Linked DNA regions of Homo sapiens: all the other regions are linked to region 2. The links come from fine-mapping of genetic effects on gene expression. A gene starts in region 2. Each other region holds a variant in brackets. All regions are shown on one strand. Distances are from middle to middle.

Region 1 (10,457 bases), 22 kb before region 2:
AACCTCTTCGCTGTCACCCATTAGACAGATGGGAGCCTGAGGCCTGCAGGGGTGCCAGGACTCCCCAAGGCCCCCTCAGCCTCCCCACCCACCCTCGGTGGGCACGCCTGCTGGGAGCAGCCCCTGAGCCCCTGGAGGGAAGGACATGGCCTCACTCCCCGCCAGGGTCCCAGCACCCGGCCCAGAACAGGAGTTCAAGAGTTTCCTTGAACAAATAAAAGCGTGAGAGAGTCCATGCCGGACACAGGCCCTGCCTTGCCTTCTTGTAGAGGGATCTAAAGGTGGAGATCAAACGAGGGCATTAGCCTGAAAGTGCTTTCAAAACCCATAAATCACTACACACCTGGAAGGGACTTGTAATCCCTAAGTGGCGAAAACGGTCACAGGTTAAGTATTTCATTCAGTCATTCATTTCATACCGATTCTCAAGTCCTGGCTCTGTGCCAAGTCCTGGGGACGGTGCAGGGGACTGGCAATGACCTCAACAGACATGGCACTGCCCTGAGGAAGCCCACGGCTCCAAGGGAGTCAGTCAAACAGGGTACCAGGAATTACAAGCGGAACATGCGGGGGCCGTGGGGCCTAGGCCAGGTGGGGCTGCCTGGTCTTCCAGAGGAAGGGTCACCTAGCTCTCAGGCCTATTGGAGACAAAGGGTCTCCAAAAAGCAGGTCAACTAGCAAAGGGAGCACAGCTCCCCAACCAGCCAGTGTCATCTCAGGTGGGCAGTGTCTAAGACAGGGACACACAGTTGGGCAGTATATATAACACTATCATTGTCCTCATTTTAAAGATGAGGAAACTGAGGCCCAGAGAGCCAAAGCAACATGCCTCAGGTCTCACAGCTCTTAGGCAGCAAAGCTGGTGGTCATGGGGCCTCCTGCACATTCTCAGGTCCCTGAGGAGGCTTGGAACAGTTTCTAGAACATTCAGCCAGTGAACTAAGGGCCAAGCCACTGTGATGGGATTCAGGCCAGCTGCTCCACTCCCAGCAGGGAGGGAGGAGGCCGCAGCCAGGGTAGGCCAATCACACAGTGGGCCCTCAGGAAACACGGCCCCAGCTGGACCTGCAGAAATCACTAGAAACAGCCCAAACAAACCATCCCTGCACAGGAGCTGCCTAATGCGAGCCTGGGGGCCACCGCCCTAGGAGGCGCGTGAGGTTTCCCAGTAACCAAGCCGGCCCGGCAGCCCTCCCTTTAATGCATGCAAACGAGGGGCATAAATTTCTGCTTACTTAACTTCACAAATGTTAACAAGCCCATAAAAAATAAGTTATTCTTCCCCAGCTCCACAACACCCTTCGTTTGTTTAATTTTGCTTCTCCTCTCCCCGCCCCCAGCCTCCTTGGCGACAAGGGAAAAGCTTGTCTTTTCCGTCTTCCATCTTTCCCTGCCTGCGGGGTCTGCCCTTGCCTCAACCTGCCCCAGGGAGGCTGAAGGAAGAAGCCCCAGATAAGGAATCAGAAGGCCCAAGAGTGAGCCCTGCTCCCTCCTCCACAGCTGTGTGACCTTGGGCTCCTGACTTAACCTCTCTGTGGTTTAATTGCCTCATCTATGAAGTAGGAACAGTAGCTGCACCCTGCCTGCTTTGGGGTTCCTGGGAGGATCAGAGGAGATAATCCAAGTAAAGTGCTTAGTTGTCTCTGGCACAGAGCAAACCCTCAATAAATGTTAGCCCATGCTATTATGTAAAGAAGAGTTAAATACCCTCCGGTTAATCCATTTGTAGAGTTTGTCTTCCGGGGCAAGCTGGCAGCTCCAAAGGCAGCCTGTGGTTCGGTTTTGTTGGCAGACTCCGTGTTGACACACATTTGAGTTTTGATGCCATCCAAACTGACCGCTGGAGTTTGCCACAGGCCCACCACACCCTATTGCCCTACACAGACCAGACGTGCGCCTTGCAGTGACCCGGCCCCGGTGAGCGTCTGAGTTTCCCACCCCTAGTTCTTGCCTCTCAAAAGCCTTTCCAACTGGTGATCTCACTAGAGGCATCACTAGGCCCAGCTGACCGATAAGGAAACCGAGGCTCATGAGGGGGGCAGCAACTTGCCCACAGTTCCCAAGGAAGGGGCTGTGGAGCCAAGGTGAGAGTGCAGCCACCAGTCCCAGCCTGTCTTCTCTCCTGAGCCCCTGTGCCACCACGACAGGTTCAGGGAAGCCTCCCTGGCAGCTGGAGGAGCAAATAAATGGCCAGTTACGCAGGTGGCAGGAGAGATGGTGTTCAGCCTCCAGGGGCTCGGTGGGTCCCAGGACCAGGCAGGAGGCTGAGCAGAAGCCAGAGCATGAGCTGGGCCTCGTCCCAGCCAACCCGAGGCATGCCAAGCCAGGGTGGCATTGCTGTGCACCGAGCACAGCACTGGGGACTCTGAAAGATAGGAGACGGGGGTTAGAGGTGGCCTGTTCCCTTCAGGTCTCCTCCACATCCTCCACTTGAGCCCACTTCCAAGAATGGCCCGGGCCAGAGACCATGCCTCACTTGCCCACAACTGCCCCCTCCTGCTGGCATCGAGCAGAAAAAGCCATAGCCGCAGCCTATCCCAGTTACTACCAGCTACATCTTCCCCAACAACATCCCAAGCTGAGGCCACTTTCATTCTTCCCTCTCTCACCAATCGCAAGTCCCCCATGAGGTATCACTCCATGATGCCCCTCCCCCCACCCCCAGGCAGGTGCACCTGTCCATCCATTCATTCTGCAGAACAAAGCTAGGCTCCCAGCACTGCAGGGACTTGCCCAAGGTCCCACCAAGCCCAGAGTGAAACCCAGCTCCTAGACATCCCTACCACCACCTTCCCAATTTAGGAGGAGTCCCCGAGGGCATCCCTAGGGCAGAGGGCAGGGCCAGGCTCCTAAGGGGCGGGGCCATGCAAGGCGAGCGAGGGGCCGGAGGGTGGGGATGGGCCGAGAGAAGACTGGATCCTGGTCTGGGTCCCGGTTGCCTGGGCAACAGGACTAATTAATTCCAACTCCATCTGTGCCTTGGCTGGATGGGCGGTTTGGGCTCCCGGGTGTTTGTTTTGAAGCAAAGGGAGAGAAGCGAGAGGGCCTGGGAGGCTGCGGCCTCGGGGTCTAGCGAGGGGCTGACATTCGCCCCAAATTCACATAGCAGGCCCTCACCCCCACCACAGGAAAAGGCAGAAAAGGCAGGCCAGGCACCCAGAGACCATCCGGGACCTCCTCTCCCCAACGAGGCTCATCATCTCAGCCCAAACGAGGTCTCACACAGCCAGCCATCGGCGGTGCCCGCCGTGTATGCACACGTGTACACGCACCTGCACACGCCGAGGAGACCACAGGCCCCAGAATGAGAGAGCCTTGGGTTTGGCTGCCAGCTTAGCCTTCTGAGTCTCAGCTTCCCTGTCTGTAAAATGGGCAACACCACTCCCCTCAAAGGGCTCTTGGGAGAAAGAGAGGGACGTCCCCAGCACAAGGACACCTGAGGGGCCTCATCTGTCCTGGGGTCCAGGAAGGCTTTGCTGAGGGTGATTCTGGTGAGGGAACCACGTATGTGGTACCCAGAAGGTGGCACTTTTGAGGAACTGGAACAAGGTCAGGAGAACTGAGATCAAGATAAATGGAACATCAGAAGGAGAGGGAGCCCCGAGGCCGAGCCAACTCCTTGCAGATCTCAAGGTTCTGGATCTTGGCCCAAGGGCAGTGGGGAGCCAGTGACATGCTGGGGGGGTGACACCAATGGAAGGGTTTGGAATGCATCGGAGGGGCGGGAATGGCGCCAGCGGCCTGTGAGGAGGCTGCAACGAGACGGGCCTGGAGGGTGACTTGGTGCAGGCAAGGACAGCAGGGTGGGCACATGAA[G/C]GCAGATTTGAGTCAGGCTTAGCGAAGAGAGTCGGGCAGGATGGAGAGAGAGACCAAGGGGGGAGTTCAGGGATGCCACCCAGGGTCTGGGTGGGTGGCTGAGTGAGCGTAGTGCCTGCCCTGGAACAGGGAGCCTCAGAGAATGGGCAAATAGCAGTGCAGGAGGACAGAGGCAGAGCCCGGGTGGGGCCAGTTGAGCTTTAGGGGTCAGAGGAACACCCCAAAGGAGTGACCAGTCAGCAGGTGGCCACACGCAATGTCCTACAGCCAGAGGCAGGTGACAGTGGAGGATGGAGACTCAGGCATCCCTTGCACACAGCTGTTAAGATGCTGGCCCGACAGCAGCGGCTGACACCCAGGCTGGGAGGGTCAGCGCTCAGGGACAGGTGCAGCAGCTGGGAGTGGATGCTGGTGCTCAGGAGCCTGCCACATCTGCCTGTGTTCAAAGCCCGAACCCAACACCTCACCAGCTATGGGATCCTTGGCAAGTCACTTCACCTCTCTGAGCCTCAACTTCCCCATCTGTAAAATGAGAATAAAAGCAATACCTACCACATAGGTTGTTGTGAGGAGGGCCATCCCCCCAGATCCTTAGCTGAGCCCCAGAGACACAGGAGTTCCAGCTACCTGCTGGTGATCAAGAAGGAAGGACTGGGCCTCAGGCCCTGGGCTGAATCCTGGGTCCCCTACTTACCAACTGTGGAACCAGGGCAAGGCCCCTCACCTCCCTGAACCTCAGCATTTTTTTTTTTTTTTTTTTTTTGAGACGGAGTCTCGCTCTTGCCCAGGCTGGAGTGCAATGGCGTGATCTCGGCTTACTGCAACCTCCGCCTCCCGGGTTCAAGCGATTCTTGTGCCTCAGCCTCCTGAGTAGCTGGGATTATAGGTGCATTCCACCACACCCAGCTAATTTTTGTATTTTTAGTAGAGAGGGGGTTTCGCCATGTTGGCCAGGCTGGTTTTGAACCTCTGACGTCAGGTGATCCACCCACCTCGGCCTCCCAAAGTGCTGGGATTACAGGCATGAGCCACCATGCCTGGCCACCTCAGCTTCTTAAAATGTAAAATGGGGATAGTGAAGGTATCAACCCCATGGCTCATGGGGTCACTGTAAACATGAAATAAGAAAACATGTCAGGCATGGGTCACCTGCCTGGGACATAGCAAGCACTAAATAATTCATCACTGCTGTCATTACAGTTATTGTCACTGCTCCTCCCAGTGACCCAAGAAGGGGGATGTGCTGATGCCCGAATAAGAAACAAGAAAGACAAAGGCCTCAACCTAGCATCCAGGACCTGAACTGACCACCACGTGATCGCAGGATCCCCTTTCCCTGCCCAAATAGCCCCCTTAGCCTGAGACAGGGCTGCATGAGACTACCTGGATCTGAACCCTTTCCTGGCCTCTCCGAACTGTGTGACCTTGGACAAGTCATCTCACTTCTCTGAGCCCCAGGTTCCTCCCTTTAGGAAAAAAAAAAAGGGTGGAGGGGGGGTGGTCCTGGGCAGGCACAATGGCTCGCGCTTGTCATCTGAGCACCTTGGGAGGCCAAGGCAGGAGGATCACTTGAGCCCAGGAGTTTGAGACTAGCCTGGGCAACATAGTAAGACCCTGTCTCCACAAAAAAGTTTTTTAAAAACTTAGCTGGGCATAGTGAGACGCACCTGTAGCCCCAGCTACTCTGGAGGCTGAGATGGGAGGATCGCTTGAGCCTAGGAGGTTGAGGCTGCAATGAGCCACGATTGCACCACTGCACTCCAGCCTGGGCAACAGGGTGAGACCCTGTCTCAAAAAATAAAATAATAAAACAAATGAAAAATAAAAAACAAGGGTCCCCTATCTGTACCATTGTCCCGAGGGCTGAACGAGGTGATACGTGAAAGTTGTCCAGTCCAGTGATGGCACACAGCAGGTGCTCAACAAGTGACAGCAGTTACGATCGGTGATTGGATATGAAGACCTGGACACGGGGACGAATGACTGCATACAAGCACTCACAACGGAGTGCCGGGGTGTGGTGCCTGTCAGCTCAATCACACCCCAGAGGGCTGCACATCTCGGGATTCACCCCCAGGTGACCCTCCCTGGCGCTCCCCCATCAGGGAAAGGGCAGAGAGCAAAGGGACCCCCAGACAGTGCCTCCCATCCATGCCACCCCCCACTCCCACCGCCCCTGCAGCAAGCACACAGCCACGCGTGTGCCGCCCCAGCCCCGTGACCCACTAGCAGCCCCTCCCGTCCCCCGCTCTGCATCTGCTCAATTAGGGAAACTGGGGAGCGAGGGAAACAAAGACTTAATTTCTGAGCTAATCAGCCTGCCTCATACTAATTACCATCCTCCCGGGCATTAGGGCAGACTTCCTGGGGGAGGCTGAGGGGGAAGCTGGTCCCTGGGAATGACACCCCTTTCCCCTAAAGCCTGAGAGCCCAGCAATGGGAGGGTGGTGGTGCAGGGGGACAGGGAGGCTTGGGCAGGTGGAATTTCAGGGTGGGATGAAGGAGACGTGGTCAGAAGCAGGAGACAGAGTCCACTGGGCAAAGCAGGCAATGCACCCGTGGTCACCTGGACAGCCCCACCTTCCCAAGGTTCCCGCCCCATCCTCCAGGCAGCCACAGGCTTGGGAGAGGCCCAGAACAGGTGCCCCAGTAGGCATGCAGCCCATGGCCTTGGCCAAGAGGACAGATGGACAATTTGAAGCTGGATAATTGAGCAATGATCAGAGGGAAGTTTCTGGATCATGGCCTACTGGGTGTGTGCATTTGTGTGTGCTTGTGTGTGTGCGTGTGTGTGTGTGTCGTATGTGTACATGAGCACACCAGAACAAGAGGGCTCGGGACTGGGAGCCAGGAAGCCTGCGTTCAATTACCTGCTCAGGCTCTGGGAAAGTCCTTGCCCCTCTGAAATTCAGGCTATACCACAAGCGAGCTGGAGGGCACGATTTTTGGAAATCATTTCAGACGTGACCACAGGGCCACTTATTCTTCAACAAATGCTTGTTGAACACCTACTATCATGCAGCCGGCTCTGTGCTGGCACCACAGGCACATTCGTGAACAAGACAGACAAGGTCCCCAGCCTCACAGTGCTTTCACTGTGATGGGGGAGCCAGGGAGTCAACACGAAAATCAAGAAACAAGTGCCTTGGCTTTGGCAGATAGAGGAACGTGCTCTGTAGAGAGTCCACCCATAGGATGTGGACAAGCGATGGGGCCACCACAGGTAGGGCTTATGGCAGCATTTTTTAGAAAACGCCCCACCCGGCGGCCAGGCGCAGTGGCTCATGCCTGTAATCCCAATACTTTGGGAGGCTGAGGTGGGCGGATCACGAGGTCAGGAGATTGAGACCATCCTGGCTAACATGGTGAAACCCCATCTCTACTAAAAAAAAAAAATTAGCTGGGCATGGTGGCAAGCGCCTGTAGTCCCAGCTACTCGGGAGGCTGAGGCAGGAAAATGGCATGAATCCGGGAGGCGGAGCTTGCAGTAAGCCGAGATCGCGCCACTACACTCCAGCCTGGGGGACAGAGCAAGACTCCGTCTCAAAAAAAAAAAGAAAGCGAGAAAAGGCCCCACCCAGCAATTAAACTGCAGATAATCCCAACTCATGGAGGACCTCAGAGCAACCCCTCTCCCTTCTCTGGACCTCTGTTTCATGCACACAGCGCGGGAGCTGGATGAGATGCTGTCCAAGGCTGATTCAGTCCCACAAGCAGGAGTTCTCACGAGTTTCTCCAGGCCGGGTGTGTGCATGAGAATGTCTGCATGATCCCCCCAGGGGCTGCGGTCTAGCCCACACATTTATACATACACAGACAGATGACCACCATGTCCCCAGTCCTGGGCCCGGCTGCACAATGGATGTACCAGATAGACAGGTATGTGCCTGATGATGAGAGGGGTGGGGCATCACATACCCCAGGGCCCATCAGCTCCCAATCACGGGATCTGCGGCCCGCACTCCAGGGGATACACTCAGCTCTGCTGGCACAGGCGTCCCTTGAACTGCCTCCCTCCCACCTGGTCATGGGGCCTTGGCAGCGGCCCACCATGTGCTGAGCGCCTGAGCCTCACTGCACGGAATTCTCACAACAGCCCTGCCAAGGAAGTGCTGTTAACCCTGTTTTACAGATGGGGAAATTGAGGCTCCGCTAGGTGAAGTCACTTGCTCAGTAAATAATCAGCTAGGCACTCAAATCGGGCCTGATCCCAAACTGCCACCCCTACCATATGCCAGGACCTTCTTCCTGGACCACTCTCAAGGCTCAAACCAGGGCACCCGCCTGAACCAGCTCTGCCCAATAACTGGCCTTCCAGGGATTGCCAAGGGCGCCCAACACAGCAAGGCAGTCAGGTTCAGATGGCCAGTTTCAAATCCTGATTTCATCACCGAGTCGCTGTGTGGCTGTGGGTAGGATCTTTAACCTCTCTGTTCCTCAGTTTCCCCACCTGTCAAGTAGGGATGGTGACAGTATCTATTTTGCTGGGTTGTTGTGAGGATTTTGCTAAGTTCTATAAAGTTCTTAGAGCAGTGCCTGGCACATGGTGTGTTGATATAAGGAAGATATGATTCCCTTTGACTCTGTGAATGGCCTGACACTTGGGTTCCACAGAAGGCAAGAGACAGAGCTGCAATTCGAACGCTGGACTCAGGACTCCCTGTCCAGGGCTCTCTCCCTACAGCATCAAGGAATCTCCAGCTTGGCCAAGGGAACAAAAAAGTCCCAGGACTGGCCCAGGCTCAGCCCCAAGGCGGAAAGACAGCCTGTGAGGAAGACTAAAGGGATGAGAGCCACAGGCCAGGGACCAGGCCCCAGACCCTGCTCCATCACCTGCACCTCCCTCCTCTGTGCCTGGCACTCGCCTACCCGGCCCCACCCCCAGCTCCGGAAGGCCCGGGCACTCCTGTGGGCACTCAAGGACCCTGGGAAGCTCCTGGGCCCCGAAGCAGCTCCCTGTGGCCCCAAGGAGCCCAGTGCCCAGTGATCCTGGGATGCAGCAGGTGGAGAACAGCAGGGAACAGCGTGGTCTCCCGGCACCACCTTCCAAGTCCCTGGGTACTCTGTCCCCAGAGACAGCCAGGGGTCCTGGCCCTGGACCCCCACACCCTACCTTTCCCCAAGTCCCAGGGAGCCCGCAGGCAGGAATCCCAGCCAGAATGGGCTCCTGCCTAAAGTGCTCAGCCAACAGCGAGAGGAGCCCAGATGTCCACACTTAGCCTTGGAAGCAGATCCCCTCAAACCAGCCCACCCGTGCCCCAGGGCAGCGTGCCGGGTCAGAGGAGCTTGATTCTGCAGTCAGACACTTCAGATCTGAAGTGGGTGAAAGTAGAAAAAGTGCAAACAGCCCAGGCACTCACAACAGGGAAATGTCCTTTCAAGAAAAGCCCATTCCAAAGTGGATTAGGACCCAGGTCCCGCCGCACCCCTGAGAAGGGTGCTCAGGGTGCAATCAGGGGCCGCAGGAGGGTGCAGGGCCAGCTGCGAGGAGAATCCCTCCTGGGTAAGAACAGATGGTGTACGTGTGTTTGTAGGTACCAGGAAACACGGGTCAGTGACAGCCTCTGGGGAGGAGGCCTTGGGAACAGGCAGTGGCCCATTCCTTTCTGCTGTGCACGCCGAGAGCATGTGCCAGTTCCCCAGGTATAAGGGGGTTTGTATACTTATGCATTGTTTTACACATACATGCTCCAAAACCCAGCAAATGCACAAAGATCACGAGGGCACACACATACACACACACCTGCCCTTGTGTGCCCAGCTTCCATCCAGCCAGCTCTCTCCTGCGGCCTGAGAGACAGGCGGTTGCGGCAAACAGACGGGGCAGGGCCAGAGAGATGGGTGGGCAGACAGAGACAAAGAGACAGGGAGAGAGAGAGAAACAGAACGAATGAGCTCAGCTCAGGCCCTAGGGTGATCCTGCTCAGAGCAGCCACTTTAGGCTGGTCCAGGGGCTGCGGGAAGTGAAAGTGCCCAAGAGGAAAGCCGGCAAGTCTCCACCCTCAGCCTGGCCACTCACTGCGGTGTGGCCCCGAGCCAGCGCCTCACCTCTCTGGGCTGCAGCCTGCCCACGAGTGCGGGCAGTGGGTGGGAGACCTGCTGGCTCCGACCCTCCAGCACTCCGGGGTCCTGGTTCCCTGTTGAGCCCCCGCTTCCCCTCTCCCCAGATGGTGCTGAGGGCAGCGTCCAGGTCAGCTGCCATCTCAGCCCAGCCAGGAACTCACTCCCAAAGCCCCTCCCTCCCCTGCCATCAGCCCCAGCATCAAATTGGAGAGGGACGAGCCGGGCACTGACCGGAAACCGCAGGCGTGGATACTGCTGTCTTCCTGCCTCATCTCACCTAATCCCCATCACAGCCCTGATCCCATTCTACCACACGAAGCAACCGAGGAGCGGAGGATGATCGGGCCGGAGCCCCACGGCCAGCGGGGGATGAATATGAATGAGCTGGGATGGAACCCACGCGTCTACTCCAAAGCCCATCGGCTCCTTCCACGACATCCTGTTCGGCAGGCAGTAGGAGGGGCCACAGGGGCAGACACCCCCACATTTCCTGACCTAGCACCCAGAACCGGGACTCCACAGGCCCCAGCCTGTCTCCAGCAGCCTCAGAGGTGACTCTAGAAGGGCCCCTGAAGCCT
Region 2 (10,457 bases):
ACGAGGTCAGGAGTTCGAGACCAGCCTAACCAACATAGTGAAACCTCGTCTCTACTAAAAATACAAAAATTAGCCGGGTGTGGTGGTGTGTGCCTGTAATCCCAGCTACTGGGGAAGTTTTTTTTGAGACGGAGCCTCACTCTGTCACCCAGGCTGGAGTGCAGTAGCACAATCTCGGCTCACTGCAACCTGGGCCTCCTGGGTTCAAGCGATTCTCCTGCCTCAACCTCCTGAGTAGCTGGGATTACAGGCATGCACCACGATGCCCGAATAATTTTTTGTATTTTTAGTAGAGACAGGGTTTCACCATGTTGGCCAGGCTGGTCTCGAACTCCTGACCTCAGGTGATCCTTCTGCCTCGGCCTCCCAAAGTGCTAGGATTACAGGTGTGAGCCACCACGCCCAACCAAGAATTCGGTACTTTTGTCCCCACTTCATATTGAGGAAACTGGGCCTCGGGGGGGGGGGGGGAAGTGACTTGCCCAGGACCCACACCGAGGAGGAAAAGAGGTTGGATTTGGAGCCCTGCCCCTGCCCTTTCCACAAGCAAGATGGCCAGGTGGGGAGTCCAGGGGGCCACAGCTGAGGCCACGATAGACTCGGGACCTGAAGAAGATACTGATCCTGGGGCAACCTCCCCACTGTCACCCGGGGGAGCCCTCCAAGCGCTGCTGTTCGAGGCACTGTGGGAGGGCCAGGGAGCAAAGGGCTGCCTTTGGGGGTGTCCCATCTCTGTGGGGAATGGGATGGGGGGTTGAGATGCAGGCACCACCCACGAGGCCCCTCCTTTCCTGTCTCTCCTTGCAGCCAAAGCAAAGGGCGTCCGCCACCCCCAGCTTCCCTAGGGCAGGGTCACTGCACCCATTTACAGATAAGCAAAGCAAGGCCCAGAAAGGGCCTTCAGTGAGAGGGGTAGGCCAAGATGTAGAGGCCTCCAGGCCCATCTGGCAAAGGAGTTCAGCAGCCAATGGTGCTGATGTGAGAGTTTCCCTTCGAGGGTTCCAGTCCTGGTTCCATCGCTGTGTGGCCCTGGACTGGTCTGTAACCTCTCTGTTTCTTGTCTTCAAAATGAGGAATAATAATAGTGCCTGCTGCAGCTGGCTTTTGTGGGACTAAACGAATGCCGCCCATAAAGAGCTTCGAACCGGGCCTGGCTCTCAGTAGGGGCTCAATAATATTAGCTGATATCATTATTATTATTATCACTATAGTTATTACTATTTCAATCAGCAGCATCGTGCAGCCAGCACCCTTCCTCTGGCACCCCAGGCATAAGCAAGCCTGCCCAGGTGGCTCTTGAGTCCTCAGGGCTTCTCTGGGGCTTTCCTGGGGACTGTCGGCAGAGCTAGGGGGAAGGAGAGGGGGCTCAATTATTCCAACCCCCAGACACCATCTCCAGTAATAATGTCAATGCCTCTGCCCCAGGTGGTAATTGAGCCAAGAGAAGGTTAATTTAATCAGGGATTGGGCTGGGACGGCAGGAGGCAGAGGACTGGGTAAACCTTCTAGACGATTAACACAGCTCCTGAAGAGGTCTAACTTGCTAAGAAGCGTCAGGTTTCGAGGCAATCCTACTTCTCGGCCATCCACTCCACACAGCACATGTCACAACATGGGGCAGGTGGGGGCACCGAGAGAGGAGCTTGGCCCCCAGGCACTGTGGCCGGAGCAGGTGAGGGTAGCAGCAATGTGTGCCTCCCAGCCCTGCACACGGTTGTCACCCTTTCACACTCACACATCACACCCGCAAGGGAAGCTGCCACCACCCTCTTACAGAGACAGGAGAGGCTGACCTCTGTCACACACAGCCAGGATGCAGATGCGGCAGGGGTGTCACTGGAACCCAATTCTGCTGCCAAAAACAAGCATCCTACAAGACCTCAGGGGATATTGAGGAACAGGCATGGAGCCCCCAGTGACCGCCCTAGACACGCCCCACTGGAGAAGGCTTGCTGAGTGTGCCCGTTCCTATCACGCTGACTGTTTCTGGAGCTTGTGGGTGGAAGAGCAAGAGAGCACTGACCTGGGAGTCAAGAGCAGCCTCTCCTCCAGCCAGAGACTCTTGGCCTTGGGCTCATCACCTGGCACCCCACCACCAATTCCTCATAGCTCCATATCTCTCCAGGAAAGGAAGGTACCCCTCGAGAAGGGGCTGGGTAATCAAATGTGTCTCCCTGTAGCCACTGAGGGCGGCGGGGGGGGGGATGGAATTCACATTAAATCAACAGACAGCTTATTCCAGAACTCAGTTTACTCATCTGTCAAATATCCACATAATAGTGGCTAACTCACCCACCTCAAAGAACTGCCGTGGAAATCCAAGGAAAGAAAAGAAAGTCCTTTGCAAAGTTAGACTTAAACCAAAACAGGAAAGCAGCTACTCTGGGCTAGGGGGATAGGAGGTGAGAGGACAGAGCTCACGTGGACTGAGCCCCCACCATATGCCAGGCATCAGCACCCGCCCCCCACAAGGCCCATGGTCTCCTTAACCCCCTTCACCTCTCTAACCCCTCACCCCATGTTACAGAGGAGAGACTGAGGCTCAGAGAGGCGACGCGAATGCTTAAATCACAAAACACAGAAAGCAGCAAAATGGGATTCGAACCAATGGCCTCACGCTCCCTGGCTATGGCCATTTTCTATTGTCACATGCACTGACACACTCACTCATTAAAGCACATCCACCCAGGGGTGGTGGGCCTGGCTGGGATGAAGAGGAAAACAGGGACTGGGGAGGTCAGATAGGGGGCTGCAGCACATTGGAGGCCTCCAGGCCCACCTGGCAAAGGAGTTCAGCAGCCAATGGTGCTGATGTGAGAACCTCCTTCGGGGGTTCCAGTCCTGGAAGGTGCACTCTTCAGGGGGCAGGACTTAAGGAAAGGGGTCCCATGCCCACTCAGGATGCTGGGAAAGGCGGCCTCTTGGGAGGGACCACGCCACGCGTCCTAAGGCTCCATCCCTCTCCCCTTCCCACCCCTCATATACAAGAGACATAACCACACTCGGCCACACACACTCCCGTGACATCACATTTACACACTCTGGCTGGGGGGAGCAACCTCCGACAAAACTGTCCCAGTGACGTCACCTGCGGCCTGGAGCTTATGTCACACCTGAGGTTCTCACTGACCTCACATACATACTTTTTCCTGATGTCCCCACAATTAACACTCTTTCTTCCTGCCTAGGCGTTGATGGCCCAGAGGTACCCACCTCCCCACCCACACAGTTGCAGGGCCCCCGGCTCATCAGGACAGCACCTGCCTGTGCACCCCTCTCAGGGGACACACATGCCCACATGCTTTGCTGATGGCCCAGACGTGACACGTCCCACAGGTGTCCACGGGCCACGAGAACAGGGGTGTCAGCCATGCACATACACATACACACACACACACACACACACACACACTCCCAGTCCCATCTCATGATGCAACTTGCATATTAAAACGCCTCTCGGTAACCGCGCCGGGCAGTCCGCGCCCCACAGCTTCCACCACATTCCTCCAGGTGCTGCCAGCACCCCACTCCCTCCAGCTTTCTGACTCCGACAGCCTGGCCTGCTGATAGCGACAGCCGCAGCCCAGACACACACACACACTCCAGCCCAACACCTGCGTCTCAGCAAGGGACCAAGGCAGTGCCCTCCAGCCGCAGCTGCTGGGTGGGAGGAGTCCAGGGGGAAGGGGCACAGCACAGAGCCCTGAGCTGCAGAAAGTGCCGAGTACCACGTTCCTCCCCAGCTGAGTGCACGGTCAGCACCACTGTCCCCTTCTCGTCTCCCTCCTTGGGCACGCCTGACACACCATGGCCTGTGGCCTCTGTTTTGGACACAAGCTCCCCGAGTGTGCATGCACACGCGCGCGCGCGCACACACACACACACACATCAGCTCCCTTCCCTCCAAACATTCCGAGGAAATCCTGCCAGGCCACTGACAGTGTGCGTGTGTGCGCTTGTGTGTATACAGACAGAGAGCAGGGTCCACCCCATGTCCACACACACACGCACACACCACACACACACAGCACGCACAATCCTCTCCACATGCACACGGCGCCCCACCAGCCAACACACCCACCCCCTCCCCGTCCCCTGACAGCTGCTGGAGCCCACACACGCACGCACACACACACACTGGCACGCGCTCGCACACACACACAAACACACACACACACACACACCCGGCAGTGGCCCCGGCCCTGCCAGAGCTGCAGTGTCTGCGATTTATGCCGCCTCCCTGGGCTGCCTCCCTCCTTGTCCCTGGCCAGCGCCTCTGAAAGGGTCCCCACCCCCCAATTCTGGTCTTACCAACCCCACCGCCGTCAAGCCCCACCCTGGCCCCCCTTCCCCTAGAAGGCATCCACCCCGTCAACCCCTCTTACCAGCTAGAGGATGAATGCCTTGACCCGGCAGCACCCCGTGAAAGAGAGGGGTTAGGGCCCCCGATTCGAAAAGATGAGGGCAGAGAGGTGCAGTGTGGCACCGGCTGGCACACCGTCCACCATCGAGCCTCTGCACCACCCCCAGAAACGCTCACCTCACCGACCGTCCTCGGTGTCCTCCCACCGCCTCCGCCCACCGCCACCACCACCACCTCCCTCGCGCAGGGTGGTCCCCCGGGGGTCTCACGGGGATCCCCAGACCCAGGAGACACTGGGGGTGGCTCTCCCCGTCTCATCCCCCCTTCCGTGTCCCTCTCCAAGCCCCACCCCCACTGACGGAGGGGGTGCCCTCCGGCTCCAGCCCCGACTCCCACCGTCTCCCCGGTCGGTCGGTCGCGGCGCTCGGATCCAGAGGAATTCACTTACCCCAGCCCCAGCCGGGATCCGGGCCAAGCACCGCCTCCGGGAAGCGGCGGCCGCGGGGCCTGCGCGTGTGAGTGTGAGTGTGAATGTGAGTGTGAGCGCGGGTGTGGGTGCGGGGTGCGTGGCCGTGGGGTGGCCCGCGTGTGTCTGTGTGTGTGTCTGGGAGCGCGCGTGTGCGCGCAGACGCCGCCGCCCCCTCCTCCCCGCCGCCGCGCCTCTGCCCCTGCCTCGGCGGGGAGGGCGCCCGGGAGGGGCCAAGCGGCGCGCGTCAGGGACCGCGGCAGGCTGTGTCCGTCTGTCCGTCCCCGTCTGTCCGTCCGCCAGCCCGCCCGCTCCCGGTGCCCTCCGCAGGCCTTTCCGCAGCAAGCCCGCTCCCGCCCCCGAGCCGGCCGCACGCTCCACGGACACACGCGCGCTCGCAGACACACGCCCGCGGGGCTGGGGCCGCGCCTGGCGCCGCCGCTGCAGCTGCAGCGCCCGGGGAGGCGAAGGCGGCCCCACGGACCCGAGCCCCGGCCTGGCGGACCCCTGTCCCGGCCGCGGCCCCCTGCGCTGCTCACCCCGCGGGATCCGGGTCCGGGTCCGGGTCCGGCCTCCGCCAGCGCATTCAACAGCTGGGGGCAAACTTGCGGCGGGGCCGCCCGAAGTGCGCCTGGACTCGCCCTCCCCCTGGACTCCGCCTCCGCTGATGGGCCCCCTCTCCGCCTTGTACCTCCATGCCCTGCCGCCTGCGCCCTGCTGGTTGGTCCCGCGTTCAACCGCTGGCGACTGGGGAAGTGCGGCTGCTGCGTTCCCATTTTACAGGCCAGACAACTGAGGTTCGGAGAGGAGTGATTCCCCCAAGGTTACACAGGGAGCCTACAGACAGTATTAGACTTTACGCTCCCCTACCTTGTGCCAGGGCACTCACTGCCTTTCCCCACCCCTCCAGGAGTAGGTCCAAGGGATACTGGGCTCATCTGTAGCTAGAGAACCTTCATTAGCCTTCCAGAGGCCCAGTTCCCCGCCCCTTACGCCAAAGCCCCTGCCACCTGCTGCCACCTGCAAAGGGGTGGATGCTGGGAGGAGGAGGAGGAGGTGGAAGATGCAAGAAGCCTGGCACCCGGGGCCTATAACTTGGTGCTTGGGCATGCAAGCACCTCCTCCCGAGGCCCTGCGAGCTGCATGTCGGAGGCCTGCTGCCAGCAGGCCCTGTACTTCTCCATCACTTTTATAGGACCGCATGCACCAGCGCCTGTTCTCAGGTGTTGCACAGCAGATGAAGTCCAGGCTGCGGGAACTCCCCGTCGGGACATCTCATGCAGGTCTGGAATAAGGAGACTCCCCAGAAGAAGCCACTGCCTGAGCTGAATCTTGATGGATGAGTAGGAGTTGGCCAGCTAAAGAAGGAGGAGAAGGGTGTCCTGGACTCTGGGAACAGCATGTGCAAAGAGGCACAGAGGCATGAAACAGCTTTGTATGTGTGTACAGGGAACTCCACGGAGTTGGGTATTAGTAGAGCAGAAAGAACGTCTGTCCAGAAATTCCTCCCTCCTTTCAACTAAGAACAGGGAACGGCCCAGGATGGGGCTGGGAGGGCAGACAAGCACTGGGTCACAGGCCACTTGTTGTCCTGGGGTATGCAGAAGGACTATTGGGCGTTCCCCACCTGCACCCCAGGCTGCCTGGCACACTCCTACCCATCCTTCAAGGTCCCTCGCTGCAAACCCAAACAAGCCATGTGCTGTCTCTGCCCTCTAAACTGAGCCCTCCTACAGGGCAGGGGCGGTATCCAACACATGGTGTGTATCCCTGACAAGGCTGGGCAAGAAGCAGGGTCCCAGCTCCAAGACCTTGCTGGAAGAGCCCCTCAGGCGGAACATAACGGCCTCTGCGCCCTCTGGCGGATCCCTCGAGAAATTAGAGTGCTCCCCAAGCCAACAGCCCCCCTGTGGCTCTCAGGCCCAGACACTTTCTGAGATGGGCACTGGCAGATGCCACCTAATCCGCTCCTGCCCAAGAAACTGAGCAGTGATGACCCCAAAGAATACCAGGGAGTCAGTGGCAAAACAGCCTCTTGCTGCTCTGTTTCCGAGACATTCCCAGTCATCTTCCAGAGTGCAAGTCACAACCCTCTCTGAGCCTGTTTCCTCCTTTGTGAAAGAAATATAGCAAAAGCAGCCAGTACCCCCAGCACAGTGCCGGCCACTCCCTTCTCCCTGGAGACCTCCAGGTCTGGCTGGATTTGGTCAGAATTTGTTTGAAGCTCTAAAACGGTCTAAGAATCTCCCTTTGGAGACTTTGCCCTTACTGGGCAGATGTACATTGACAAGAGTTTCAGCTCTTAGCTGACTTTCTGCCACCATATAGAAGATAGAGTTGGCCTGGCCTGAGGGTCATAGTGGACCACACCATCTAGACACTCGACTGGGCTTTCTCTAGACCATAGTGGAAAGGATACATGTCTGCACTGTCAAAGACAGTAGCCACTAACTGCATGTGGCTATTGAGTGATTGGAATTGTGGCTAATGTGGCTGAGGAACTAAATTTTTAATTTTAATTGTTATTACTTTAAATTTAAATAGCCATAATGTGGCTTGTGGCTGCCATGTGAGATAGTGCAGCTCCAGACATATAGCAAGCTCCTTATTAAAATCAAGCCCAGGCAGACCTAATGCACACACACAAACACACAGACACACACACAGGGAACCCTGAGGACCTGGGAATGCGGGGAGCGGGGAGCTCAGGAGACTGCCTAGAATCCGTAGCTGAATGGTTAAGACCGAGACAAACGTAAGCAATAACATGTCCATTCCCACAGTCACTGCCCCAGACCAGGCTTGCCGTCACCTGGATACCTGCAACAAACTCCCTCACCACCCATCTGTTTAAACCCTCCAGTAGCTCCCCAGAGCCCATGCACAGAGGCAAATATGTTCTCTTTCTCATGACAAGTGATTGGCAGCAGCTGCCTAGAGGTGCTCACCCTTTGCAGAAAATGGCATGATCAATTGGTGATGTCTGCCTCAGGAATAAATACAGAGATGAATGGTAAGCCCTCTCTGCTACAGGATAAAATCCAAACACTATTTATTTATTTATTTTAGAGACAGTGCCTCTCTCTGTCACCCAGGCTGGAGTGCAGTGGTGCAATCTCCACTCACAGTGGTGCAACCTCCGCTCACTGCAACCTCCGCCTCCCAGGTTCAAACTATTGTCCTGCCTCAGCCTCCCAAGTAGCTGGGATTACAGGCACCCACCACCATGCCTGACTAATTTTTGTATTTTTAGTAGAGACGGGGTTTCCCCATTTTGGCCAGACTGGCCTCAAACTCCTGAGCTCAGGTGATCTTCCTGCTTCAGCCTCCCAAAGTGCTGGGATTACAGGCATGAGCCACCGCACCTGACCAAAACTCCAAACTCTTTAACTTGCCTAAATAAGGCCCGTTGCAGTTGGTCCTTATTTATTCCTCCAGCATCTTCAATATCATCCCACATATGTTCTGGGTCCCAGCAACACCAATATCTGCCCTTTCCAGACTCACTTTCTGCCACCATATAGAAGATGGAGTTGGATCTGTCACCCCATCATCTTCACACCTTTGTGCTTTTGATCCTGTTCCCTTGATGTGGGAGGACTTTCCTCCTCTCAGATCCCTTCCCTACCTGTCTACTTTCTACCTATCCTCAGGTACTGCTTGAAAGCCGCCTCCTCAGTGAAGCCTCCCCTGACCACTCCTAAACTGAGCTGGCTGAGCTACTTCCTTCTCCACCGGCTCCCAGAACACTCTGCAAGGCTTCAGTGACAGCACACATCACATCATGTCATTATTCATTCTCTATGTGTCCACCTCCCCCAGCTTATTCTTCACTTGGTCACCTCTATCAAGTAGCAACCATGTGTCAGGGGCTCGCTCAGGGCCAGGCACTGTGCAAGGCCATTTTCACACATTATTCTTATTAATAAGCCACCAATCTAGACGTTAGGAGGTTCTCTTCCGGGCACACAGCATCCACCCCCCCTTCCCACCAGCGCCCTAATTTCTCCTCTCCCCACCACCATGGACAGTCTTGGAGGAATGTGAATCCAGGTACCACTTCCTGCCCTCAGCTGGGCTAATTGCGCTGTGGGTGGAGTGACGCGTGCACAGGAAAATTAACCGGAGCAGAACCATCCTCGAAATGTCAGTGCCAGGTGACATGGGTGGGCTGGGCACCTGCCCTGCATCCCAGAACCCCATCTGCTCGGCCTTCTCCCAGAGGTGCACAGGAGCTGCCCCTGGCTGACAGCTCACCAGAAAGTGCCCTTTATTTTCAAGGTGAACAAGCATGGCCCACATCCAAATGATCCCACTGCCCTGGCCACGTCACTAGAAAGACATTTTTTCCAGAAAGTCGTCCTTTCTTCAAAGCTTAGAGAACAGAGGAGGAAGAGTGAGAGGAACATAGAAATGCTAAAAGCTTCACGCATTGTTTAAGGTGAATAACAAGATTTACCCTTTGTACTTAGGTGAAATTTTCTTCACTTGGTCTCAGTGGCATTTTGAGTTGATGCTAAGAAAATTAGGTTAAAGTGATTCTTTCAGAGAAACACACACACACACACACACACACACACACACCCCAGAGCTTGTGCGGGGTGTCACATTCCTCCTTTGGATCCAGACCTAAAATCACATTTCTGTTGCGCCTCCAGTACTGGAACTGAGGACATCAGCTCGCTGAGGACAGGAGCCAGTGGTGAGACAGAGCCTGGAAGAAAAAGACGGGCCTGGAAGGCAAAGCGTGGTCCTTGCCCACGGTGGAACCCTGCCAAGTGGACTAGGAAGAGATGGGGGCTGAGCTGCCTTCTGGGGAAGGTGGGTCCTCTTATCTAGGAGTGTTTTGTTTTTCTGGTCACTGTGACAGGTCAGGGCATGCAAGGATGAAGGTAGTTGTCAGATGCTGGGGCCTGGGGGAGAATGAGTAGGAGAGAGAAGAGACCACAAGTCGGGAGGAAGGTGACAGGGAGGGAAGCCGACCCGCCCAGGAGGCCTAGTTGCGAAGAACACATGTATTTCTAGGAAGGATTTTGACATTCTTTTGCTGTGGTGTGTACATTACGAGCCCCCTCCCCCACTTCAGTCTCCCTACCACCTCCTTCCCCCCACTCCCTTCAGAAAAGTCTGCGTGTTTCTCCTATGAGTCATTTATTGCTTTGTAATGAATTACCTCAAAACTCAGTGGCTTAAATCTGCAAAATGACATGCTTATTATTTCACAGTTTCTGTGGTCAGGCATTTGGGAGAGGGTGATTCAGCCTTGAAATGTCTCATAAACTTGCAGTCAAGATGTTTAGCTGGGGCTCCACCCATCTGAAGGTTGGACTGGGGCTGGCGGATCTGCTTCTGAGATGCTTCCCTCACGTGGCTGGCAGGGTGGTGTTGGCTGTTGGTGGGAGTCCTCTGTGTCTTGTCACATGGACCTCTCCATAGGACTGTTTGAGTGTCCTCACAACATTGCGGCTGCTTTCTCCAGAGTGAGAACAAGTAGGAAGCCTGTGTCTCTTAAGACCTGTCCTCAGAAGTAACACTCATTTTTGCTTTCCCGTTGGTTCCATGGATCTGACCCATTCATTGTAGTGAGGGGACCACACAGGGGGTGGAGCCCAGGAGGGAGGTACCATC
Region 3 (10,457 bases), 99 kb before region 2:
CTCTGTTGCCCAGACTGGAGTGCAGTGGTGCAATCTCGGCTCACTGCAAACTCCAGCTCCCGGGTTCAAGCGATTCTCCTGCCTCAGCCTCCTGAATAGCTGGGATTACAGGCGTGTGCCACCACACCTGGCTAAGTTTGTATTTTTAGTAGAGACCGGGTTTCTCCATATAGGTCAGGCTGGTCTTGAACTCCCGACCTCAGGTCATCCACCTGCCTCAGCCTCCCAAAGTGCTGGGATTACAGGCATGAGCCACCGCGCCCGGCCAGATGCCACCACTTTGCCACCGAACAGGTGACCCTGCTCAGCTACTCACCAGAGGTCTAACCTGGAGCAAATTATGCAATTAGCCTCTCTTAGCCTAGGTTCCTATCTGTGAATTGGAGCAGTTGGGAGGATGGACTACCAGGGTAACCATGAGTTCAGTTAAAAATAGTTACAGTTATTCAGCGGTAAATTAAATAACTTTATGTTTTAAAATATTTGTGAGTTTGAATGGAACTGCATTGATTAACATTTGTATTCCTTTCATATCTGAGTGGGAATGGACTTTCTCCCTGTGAGGGTTAAGCATTTGTGTTTCCTTTCTAGTGTGAATCATCGCTCCTGCCCTTTGCCCATTCACCTGCAGGTTTCTCTGCCTTTCCTCTCCGTCTGCCTGGGATCATTACAGAGCAAAGATAAACCCCCATGGCCGTTCTTGATTGCTAGAGATTTTTCCAAAGCTGTTGCTCACCTGTCTGCTGGGGCCATTTTTCTGGCTTACAAAGTGGCCGAATCCATCTGACTTTCCCATTTTTATTTTCTCTATCACTTTTAAGCTTAGATTGGAGCCCTTCTCCAGAATGTGACAATATAAAGGAAATGGATTTTGAATGATGAGATTTCCTGCACCTTGAGGGGTGGTGGGGGTGGGGGATCCTGGCTCAACTCAAACCCTGTGGTGGTGATAGAAGGCATAGTCAGAAACCAAGAGCCCCTCAGCACCAGGACAACCCACCACCCTCAGCTCTCCTCGACATTAGCCACGCTGTCTCTCTCCCCATTTGCAGAGTCCCCCCGCAGAGAGGCACAGGGCAGGCCAGAGCTGGATGCGCGGCTGGAAGGTCAAAGGCATCATCCTCAGGTTGGAGACAGGATGACCGAAGGTGTAAGAACTGGCCAGAGGAGTTGGACAACTCCCAGCTCAGGTCTCTCCTCGACTGCTTTGGCCGTGTGAGCTTTGCCTCTCTGGGTCTCTGTTGTCTCATCCATAAAATGGGCCTGACCATGCCCAAGTCAACGGAAGGATTTAAATAGATCAGCGCCCTGAGGTCGGTGCTGGACGCCGAGTACACGCGCCCAGTACACAGGGCTTGAGCTCATTACACGCCCCAGTTCTGTTCCTGGGGTGGTGGCGTGAACCCCACTGCCTTTGCCTTTAATTGCACTGAAAATATCCAGCACCGCTGATATCAAGGGCCCAGGTCCCGGCGGAAATGAACTCCCAGACTTGGGCGCCCAGGTTTCCGTGCGCGACCCCAGCCCCTCCGGCTGCAGCTCAGCCCATCGGCCCTGCGCGGGAACAGTGTCACCCGGGCACCCGGGCCAGAACAGGCCACGCGTGTCCCAGGAGCGCGGGAAGCTCCCACGCCCCCTCCCCCGCACCGCTCCTTTGGCTGGCAGAGCGGGTCCTCAGCGCGTCTCAGCCGCACCAAGCGCCTCCCGCTCCCGCGCCACCCGGGCGCGCTGCTGGGGCCTGATTTCCATAATAATCAGCCAGAGATCTCCCGAAAAGGCTGGGAGCGGCCGCCGCCGCCCACCGGGGAAGCTCCCGAGGGTGGGCGCCCCCCTTCCCACCCTCCCTGCCGCCGCCGGGAGGGAGCCTCGTTTTTAAAAGCTTTCGAGAAACCGTCCGTGCGCAGGAGGCAGCTGGGAGACACCCAGGATGTCGTTCTCCGCATTAAGGAGGGGGACGGCGGTGGGGGAGGTGGGAGAGGCCGCGGCGCAGGTGTAGACCAGGCTCAGAGGCAAGGAGGGGAGGAGGGAAACTGAGGCAGCCGCGGGGTGGGGAGACGTTTCAAGGTATATTCTCACTGCAGCCTCACGGCGACCCTGCGGGTGAGTTATCTGCTATGCCCCACTTTACAGGTGGGGAAACTGAGGCCTAGAGAGGTTTCCAGTCTTCCAAGCTGGCAAGTGGCTGGGCGGGGACCCTTTTCCGAGTTGGGGGATTCAGATCCCCTGGCCTGCCCGGCACACTGCCTCCTGCCCAAAATGGGCAGCGTAGAAGCAGGATGCTCTGTGCATCCCAAGATGGGAGAACCAACCCGAAAGGGAAAGACCAGGGGGCTGAGGTCCGGCACACACTTGGAGCTGATCTGGTCCAGAAGCCCGTGGGCTCGCAGAACCTAGTTTGAACCCCAGCTCTGCCACCTCCCAACCATCCCCCAAGGGGTGGGCAAACTACAGCCCCTAGGCCAAATCCTGTCAAACTGTTATGGTACAACCAGAAACCAAGCATGTTTTTTTTTCTTTTTTTTCTCTTTTTCTTTTTCTTTCTTTCTTTTTTTTTTTTTTTTTTTTTTTTTTTTTTTAGATGGAGTTTTCGCTCTTGTTGCCCAGGCTGGAGTGCAGTGGTGCGATCTCGGCTCACTGCAGCCCCTCCCTCCTGGGTTCAAACAAGTTTCCTGCCTCAGCCTCCCAAGCAGCTGGGACTACAGGCACGGGCCACCACACCCGGCTAATTTTTTTGTATTTTCAGTACAGATGGGGTTTCACCATATTGGCCAGGCTGGTCTCAACCTCCTGACCTCAGGTGATCCACCCTCCTCGGCCTCCCAAAGTGCTGGGATTACAGACATGAGCCACTGCACCCGGCTAGGTTTTTTCTATTTCTGAAGATAAAAAAAAAAATTCCTGACATGTGAAAATTATATGAAATTTGAATTTCCATGTTCATCCACTTTTTTAATTAAAATACAGCCACACCCACTTATTTCTGGTACTGTCTATGGCTGCTTTCCCTCTACGGTGGCACCGTTGAATAGTTTTGACCAAGAAGCATGGCTCGTAAAGTCAAAAATATTTACTATGTAGCCTTTTCCAGAAAAGCTTTGCCCATCCCTGCAATAATGGGGCAACGATGAAGCCTCTACGCCTCGGTTTTCTCACCTGGACAGATGGGAATGCCATTAAGTGAGGATGAAGTGAAGGCTGGGAAAGCCCTGAGCACAGTTGGCAGCACCCATCTTAGAAATGCCTTTGACCGGCCCGGTGCAGTGGCTCACGCCTGTAATCCCAGCACTCTGGGAGGCCGAGGCAGACGGATCCCCTGAGATCAGGAATCCAAGACCAGCCTGAGCAACATGGAGAAACCCCATCTCTACTAAAAATACAAAATTAGCCAGGAGTGGTGGCGCATGCCTGTAATCCCAGCTACTCGGGAGGCTGAGGCAGGAGAATCGCTTTAACCCAGGAGGCAGAAGTTGCAGTGAGCTGAGATTGTGTCACTGCACTCCAGCCTGGGTAACAGAGTGAGACTCCGTCTAAAAAAAAAAAAAAAAGAAAGAAAGAAAGAAAAAGAAATGCCTTTGACTTTTGCCAAGCCCCTGCTGCTTGCTGCCTCCCCATCCCGAATCACGGCTACCTGGGTGGATGCACTTTGAACTCAAGATATTCATCCCCTGCCCCCATTCATCCTGCTTGTCCTCACTCCAAGCTTATCAACCTGGCCTCCAGCCACCCTCTCCCGTCAGTGACCCAGCCTGACCGGTTCCACCTCCAGCACCCAGCACAATCCCTGCCCCACACTGGTTCTTAGCAAACATTTTCTTTCTCTTTTTTTGAGACGGAGTTTCACTCTTGTTGCCCAGGCTGGGGTGCAATGGCGCAATCTCAGCTTACTGCAACCTCTGCCTCCTGGATTCAAGCAATTCTCCTACCTCAGCCTCCCAAGTAGCTGGGATTACAGGCATGCGCCACCATGCCCGGCTGATTTTGTATTTTTAGTAAAGATAGGGTTTCACCATGTTGGTCAGCCTGGTCTCGAACTCCTAACCTCAGGTGATCTGCCCACCTCGGCCTCCCAAAGTGCTGGGATTACAGGTATGAGCCACCGCACCCGGCCTCAGCAAACATTTTCTAGATGGATGGATGGATGGGTGGATATTTTGCAGTCTTTCTCCATTCCTTCAACTCTAGCCTCCATCATCTCCTTCCAGGTCTCCCTGCTCCCCCCTTCATTTCATCCCCGACTCTGTAGCCAGGGTCACCTGCCTCCTCCCTGGATCCCCAGTGCAGCACAGGTGCTGAGCCACCCCCCTCCACCAAACACCCAAACTGCTAGCACTTCCCTGAGCCCAGCAGGTTGTATCAAGCCTCCAGATGTTTGCCCATTCAGTTTTCTCTGCCTGGAACCTTCTTTATTCCCAGTCCAATGGGCTTTGCATCCTCTACTTGACCCCCAAGACTTAGTTCAGGACCAAAGCCTTTGAAGCCATTCCAGGTCTCTCCCCCTTCTCCCACTGCCCCAGTATACAAACCTATCTC[G/A]GTACCAGTGGGACTTTGGTACCTTTATGAATATGCATGAGTTTCTCCTGGTGAGCCTGTGAGCCTCTTGAGGGCCAGAACTGTGACTAGTATTTCTTTTCTTTTTTCTTTCTTTTTTTTTTTTTTTAAGACAGAGTCTCTCTCTGTTGCCCATGCTGGAGTGCAGTGGCACAATCATGGCTCACTGCAACCTCCACCTCAAGCGATTTTTCTGCCTCAGCCTCCCAAGTAGCTAGGATTACAGGCGCCCACCACCACACGCGGCCAATTTTTGTATTTTTAGTAGAGATGGGGTTTCACCATACTGGCCAGGCTGGTCTTGAATTCCTGACCTCAAGTGATCCACCCACCTCGGCCTCCCAAAGTTCTAGGATTACAGGTGTGAGCCACCGCATCCGGCCTATGACTAGTATTTCTGAATCACCAGTCCCAGCAAAGGCATGCCGCGGAGAAGACAATAAATTTTTAATAAATGAGTCAACGGAGGAAGGAAGGAATTAATATAGCTGGGATCATCTCCCTCCCTGGCTCAACAACTTTCAGATGCTTCCCAGGTTCTCTCTGTCAAGGCCCAGCCTGGTCTTCAAGTCTTGAAGCCCTATATGAAATGGCTCTGGTTCACCCCCGCAACCTTGTCTCAAGCTGCATCTCCCATACAGTCTTCCCGAAGCAGTCCTGGCCTCCAAGCCTCCATTCATGCAGTTCCCCCTCCCTGTTTCTCCTCCTTAGCCTACCCACATTTGTGCCTGTGGGGGCCCTGGCCATCCTTGGAGATCTTACAGGGCTTCAGCAATCCAGGGGCACCTGCAGTAGGGACCAGCTACCCCATTTCCCAAATCCCACAGCAGAAGGCAGTGAGCAGGGGCTTTGACCAGGAGGACCTGGGTCCCAAATGAATCCTGCCAATGTTTACTATGGAGATGTCAATTCGGCTCTTGGAGTAAAGAGGAAGAGTCCCTTTTACTTGTCTCCTGGGGCTGCTGTGAGGTTAGAGATACTGTAACCTCTCTAGCGCACAGTAGGTACTCAATAATGGACAGCTATTTCCAGCCTGTACACAACACTTCTGTCCTTCTGAGAGGAGGCTCAGAGAGCAGACCTACAGCTCCCCGCAACCTGCAGCCCCAACCTCTCTCTCTCTCTCCCTCTTTCTCTCTCTCTCCCTCTCTCTCTCTCTCTCCCTCTCTCTCTTCCCCTCTCTCTCTCTCTCTCCCTCTCTCTCTCTCTCCCTCTCTCTCTCTCTCTCTCTCTCCCTCTCTCTCTCTCCCTCTCTCTCTCTCCCTCTCTCTCTCCCTCTCTCTCTCTCTCCTCCTCTCTCTCTCTCTCTCCCTCTCTCTCTCCCTCTCTCTCTCTCTCTCTCTCTCTCTCTCTCTCCCTCTCTCTCTCTCTCTCTCCCTCTCTCTCTCTCTCTCCCTCTCTCTCTCTCTCTCCCCCTCACCCCCGACAGTGCCTGCAGCCACCGACTGATGCTGGCGTGGACAGAATGACAATGAGGCCAGGACCTAAGCGAGCCCATCTGGGAACCTAAGACTGTGGCAGAGGCTCAGATGAAGCCAGGGCTTGGGAGGGGCTAGACAGGGACGGGGCAGGCAGGCAGGGCAGAGCAGGGATAGGAGCAGGGCAGTGATCTGCCACTGACTGTACAGCTGGGTGTCAGCTTTCCCTTCTGCCCAATGGGTGAATCATTCCCCCTCTCAGGTCTTGTCCTGAGTACCAAGGGCCAAGTGAGAGTTTGGGATGAAGAGGGACAGAGCCAGGCAGGGCAGGAGCCAGGGAGCAGGGCAGCGGCAGGGTGGGACCAGGGGATGGGGTTCACGATGGAGATGGGGCTGGGGCAGGGACCAGTCAGATTTCTGATTCAGAGCAATTCAGATTGCTTGGGCAATCAATCGGACAAAATCACCCCCAGGGCAGGAAAAGAGACAGTGAGAATATTGTTGGAGGGGGTGGTGCGTGCAGGGAAGAAGGAAGAGGGAGAGAAAGAAGAAAGAAGGAATCTGAGAAGAGACCGTGGAGGGGACGGGGAGAAACCATCCCCTGCTGGAGTCCTGGAGGCAGCCCCACTGGTGCCAGCCTTCTCCTTTGGCCGGTGGGACCTCTGTGGCCAGAGGGCCAGGGACTCACCCAGGCCCCAGTGAGGGGGAGGCAGAATGGACAGAATAGGTGGGAAGACGGGCATGGGAAAGGGGTAAAAGGGGAGGTAGGGTGTGGTTGGCACAGGCCTGCATAGCTAACAATCAGAGAGACGGCCGCCCCTCCTTTTCGAGTCCACATCACAGGTGGAGGGGCCAACTCTTGCCACACGGCCAGCTCATTCCACCTCATTGCCTTTGCCCAAGCCAGTGCCCTGCCTGGGGTGCCTTTATTTCCCTACCCTCACCCCAAACATTTAATCCTCCTCCCTAATTCCTCCAACATTCACCCCAGCCCTGATCTCCCTCAGCAATGACTGTCTCACCCTCACCCTCAGAGCTTGGTGTGAGCGGGGTTACAGTCTGGTGGTCCAAGGATGCTTGCTGGTGTCCCATAAATGTGCTTAGTCCTCACAAGCAGCATGGACGAGCATCACAGCCTGGTGGTTAGGCTCACAGGCTTGGGACTCCACTGGGCCAGGTTCTAGTCCCAGCAGCTTCGTTTTCACATAGTAGTTGCTTCATAAATGCTAGGTCCCCTCCTCCTGTTCCATTGCTAGCTCAGAATGTGCACACAGCAGGTGCCCAGTGGTGGCTTCTGGGCTGAGGTGCCCTTCTGTTCCCTAGTGGGCCCCTTGTCCCTGACAGGACACAAAGATGTCACCCCTGCCTTGGCCTCCAGGCCCAAGCCTGAGCAGTGAAGCTTGGGAGAAAGGCCCCATTGCTCATTCCCCTTGAGTCTGCAGCTTGGGCAATCAATCGGTCGCCATGGAAACCAGCCTTCCAATCAGAAGCAGGCACTTCTTGGCTGCGCCAGCGCCACCTACCCACCCACTCAGGCCTGGCTGTGCGGTCCCTCACCTAGGACTGCCAGGGGTTGGGGGCGGGGAGGAGAAAAGGGAAACTGGCATAATTGGGGCACACCTGCTTCTATCCCTAAAGCCCTGAGAGTCTCCAAAGAAAGAGCATTTTCTTGGGGTGGGGGTCACTACTTCAGTGGCCCCCTGATTTTTACAGCATTCATTCCTACAGAGTATGGCCCTTGGTACTCAGAACAAAACCTGAGGGGAGGGAATGATTCACCCATTGGGCAGAAGGGAAAGCTGAGACCCAGCTGTAGGGTCAGTGGCAAAGCTAGGTGCATGCCCCCTCCCTGAGCCCCCATCTCCTTCCCCCTCCTCCCTGGCCTGAGGAATGGGACAGGGAAAGGAGGGGCAGAAGAGTTCCTGGCCCACTGCAGCCAGCACCTGCCTTCCCACTAAATCTACGCCTGGCACTTCCAGGGCCCATTAGCGCCGGGCCCACCAGGGCCCATTAGCCAGCATCTATGGGCCTCTGCACCCACCTGCCCACCCACGCCCAGCTGCAGCCTCCCGCCCAGGCCCCTCCTTCCCCCACTGCCAGCTGGGATTGGACAGAGCCCAGGCTCTGAGTCACACAACCCCACGTTCAACAACTGGCTCCTCGCTGCTGAGACTAAGCAAGCCAGGAAACCTCTCTGAGCCTCAGTTTCTCTGTTTGGAAAATGGAAAGAATTACTCCTGCCTTACAAGGGAGTGATGAGGACTCAGAGTGCATAAAGAGCTTAACACAGGGCCTGGTATGGACTCAGTAAAAGGGAGGCCACCTTCCCCATCCCTGTTCCCTCTCAGTACCCAAAACTGTCCCTTGGAGCTGAGCTAAGGCATCCACCTGCCAGGAGAAGGTAGAAGACAAATTCTACTATTCTTAATAACCAGCCCAGGAAAGCAAATTACAAATAAGATTTAGAGAAGGGCAGCAACTTGCCCCCTACCCCAACACTGGGAGGGATGGGTAGGATTTGAACCCAGGTCTGTCTGACTCAGACCTGAGCTGTCTCTGCTGCAGCCCAGCCTCTCCCGACCCTGACCCAGCCCTGCTCCAGCCAGCCAAAGCCTGTCACCCTGGGCCACTAGTGCCCAGCTCTGCACTGACAGAGCACCTGCTATGAACTTGGCATGCCAGGTGCCCACCACCACATACAGCACCCCCAGCACTTACAGGGCTGCAGAAGGGAAGTCGAAGGGATGTTGAGTCATGCTGGGGGATCTGACCTGGTTGAGGATGCTGGGGAGACTTCTGGAAGGAAGGCGGAGGCTAGACCAGCTCCCAGCCACCACACAGCTGGTGCTGCCGCCTGCTGTTTGAAGCTTTTGCCCTCTCGGCCTAGAAGTCTCCCATTATGGTGCTGTGTCTGCTGGGACCCACGGGGCGCTGCACAGGGAACCATGTGGCCGTGAACCTCAAGTCCAGCCCAGCAGGGGTCAATTGTCTCAGCCCACCCCTCCCTACCCCCAGTATCCTCTCTCCTTTATAGATCATCCATTAAGTGCCAGACACTGCAGAAGGCACATTGACTAATATTAAATATTAGCCCAGCTACCCTGCTGGGCTGTCCTTCTTAGAAATGAGGAAGTGGAGGGTTAAGTGGATTTCTCAAGGTCGTGCAGCTGGTAAATGGCAGAACCAGGATTTGAACTCAGGTGTGCATGACTTCAAAGGAAGACACCACTGAGGCCTCCTCTACTGGGTCTGCCTCCCTACCGCCCCTGGCTCCTTGATGAAGACTCCTGTAGGACAGGATGGAGCAACTTGCTTCCAGCTATTATGAGATTTCTGCTTCTCCCTTCTCTCCTCCAGAAAACAAATTGATTCATCAAATTACACCTTTAATCTGTCCTAGGGAAGGGGAGGAATGGGACTCAGCCCCCACAGCAGGAAGCAGGACGGGTAATCAGCCCACCCGTCCTCCCCAGCTCAGGCACAGCCACCCATGCTCTATCCTCCTGTGATTAAACACTAATTGCCGCTATGCTCTCAAATTGAGTATTTCAATTTCCAGAAACGCAAAGTACATTTCAATCAGTTCCTCTCCCAAACCGTTCCTTCTCAGGAGCCAGGACAAGAACATAAGCCCCCCAAGGCCATAGACAGCTAAGCCTCACTCCTGTACTCCTGCCGTCCCTCTCCCCCGCAACCACCGCTTCTCTCCTTCCCGGGTACCCCGTGGGGGAGCTGTGGGCACTCGAAGTGTGTGGGAGCATCCAAGAGACCCTACAATTGTCAGCTCAGAAAAGTGAGGCAGGCCCCCCCAACCCTGGGGTCAGACAAGGGGATGGGGACTGTCCACTAGAGGCAGGGTCCAGGCTGCCTGCTCCTCACCTGCCCCCGACCTTCTCCCTGCACACGGTCATTAGACGCTCATCCCAGCCTTCGGAGTGGACAGAGGCTGGGCAGGAATCCCAGTGGGAGCAGAGACTGGCGGGATGGACACCTGGCCCTTAGTTCCAACTCTGCTACACATCTCCCCTCTCTGGCTCTCAGTGTCCCCATCTGTCCCAGAAAGGGGCTGGGGAGGGGCTCACAGTCGTAGCTGGAAGGTATGTGCTTCCCAGGCACAGGCCCAGGGCCAGGATCCGGCTGGCTGCAGATTCCCCTGGGGGTTCTGAGGAGGGGCCAGAAATTGACTTTTTTTTTTTTTTTTGACGGAGTCTTGCTCTGTGGCCCAGGCTGGAGTGCAGTGGCACGACCTTGGCGCACTGTAACCTCCACCTCCCGGGTTCAAGCAATTCTCCTGCCTCAGCTTCCTGAGTAGCTGAGATTACAGGCACCTGCCACCACGCCCAGCTAATTTTTGTATTTTTAGTAGAAACAGGGTTTCACCATGTTGGCCAGGCTGGTCTCAAACTCCTGACCTCAAGCAATCTGCCCTCCTCGGCCTACCAAAGTGCTGGGATTGCCGTCGTGAACTGTGCCTAGCCAAACTGGCATTTT

The links. PIP is the estimated chance that this variant, and not a neighbour inherited with it, causes the effect.
Region 1: its variant is fine-mapped to the expression of ELFN2 in whole blood (TOPMed, PIP above 0.99).
Region 3: its variant is fine-mapped to the expression of ELFN2 in fibroblasts (GTEx, PIP above 0.99).

Annotation. Positions count from the first base shown.
Region 1 is chr22:37,400,534-37,410,990 of GRCh38, forward strand. All of the region lies in intron 2 of ELFN2 (extracellular leucine rich repeat and fibronectin type III domain containing 2), which reads right to left. Among named protein-coding and RNA genes, the nearest start is that of ELFN2, 22 kb to the right of the region's middle. RefSeq lists enhancers at 2,042-2,790, 10,017-10,457. The variant G/C (reference allele first, on the strand shown) is at 3,817.
Region 2 is chr22:37,422,487-37,432,943 of GRCh38, forward strand. It overlaps ELFN2 (extracellular leucine rich repeat and fibronectin type III domain containing 2), which reads right to left and starts at 4,993. Exons shown (of 3, transcript NM_052906.5): 1 at 4,812-4,993.
Region 3 is chr22:37,323,209-37,333,665 of GRCh38, forward strand. LOC105373024 (a long non-coding RNA gene) reads right to left here and starts at 8,928. Exons shown (of 4, transcript XR_938232.3): 1 at 8,685-8,928. RefSeq lists enhancers at 4,109-5,308, 5,756-6,401 and a silencer at 7,300-7,594. The variant G/A (reference allele first, on the strand shown) is at 4,531.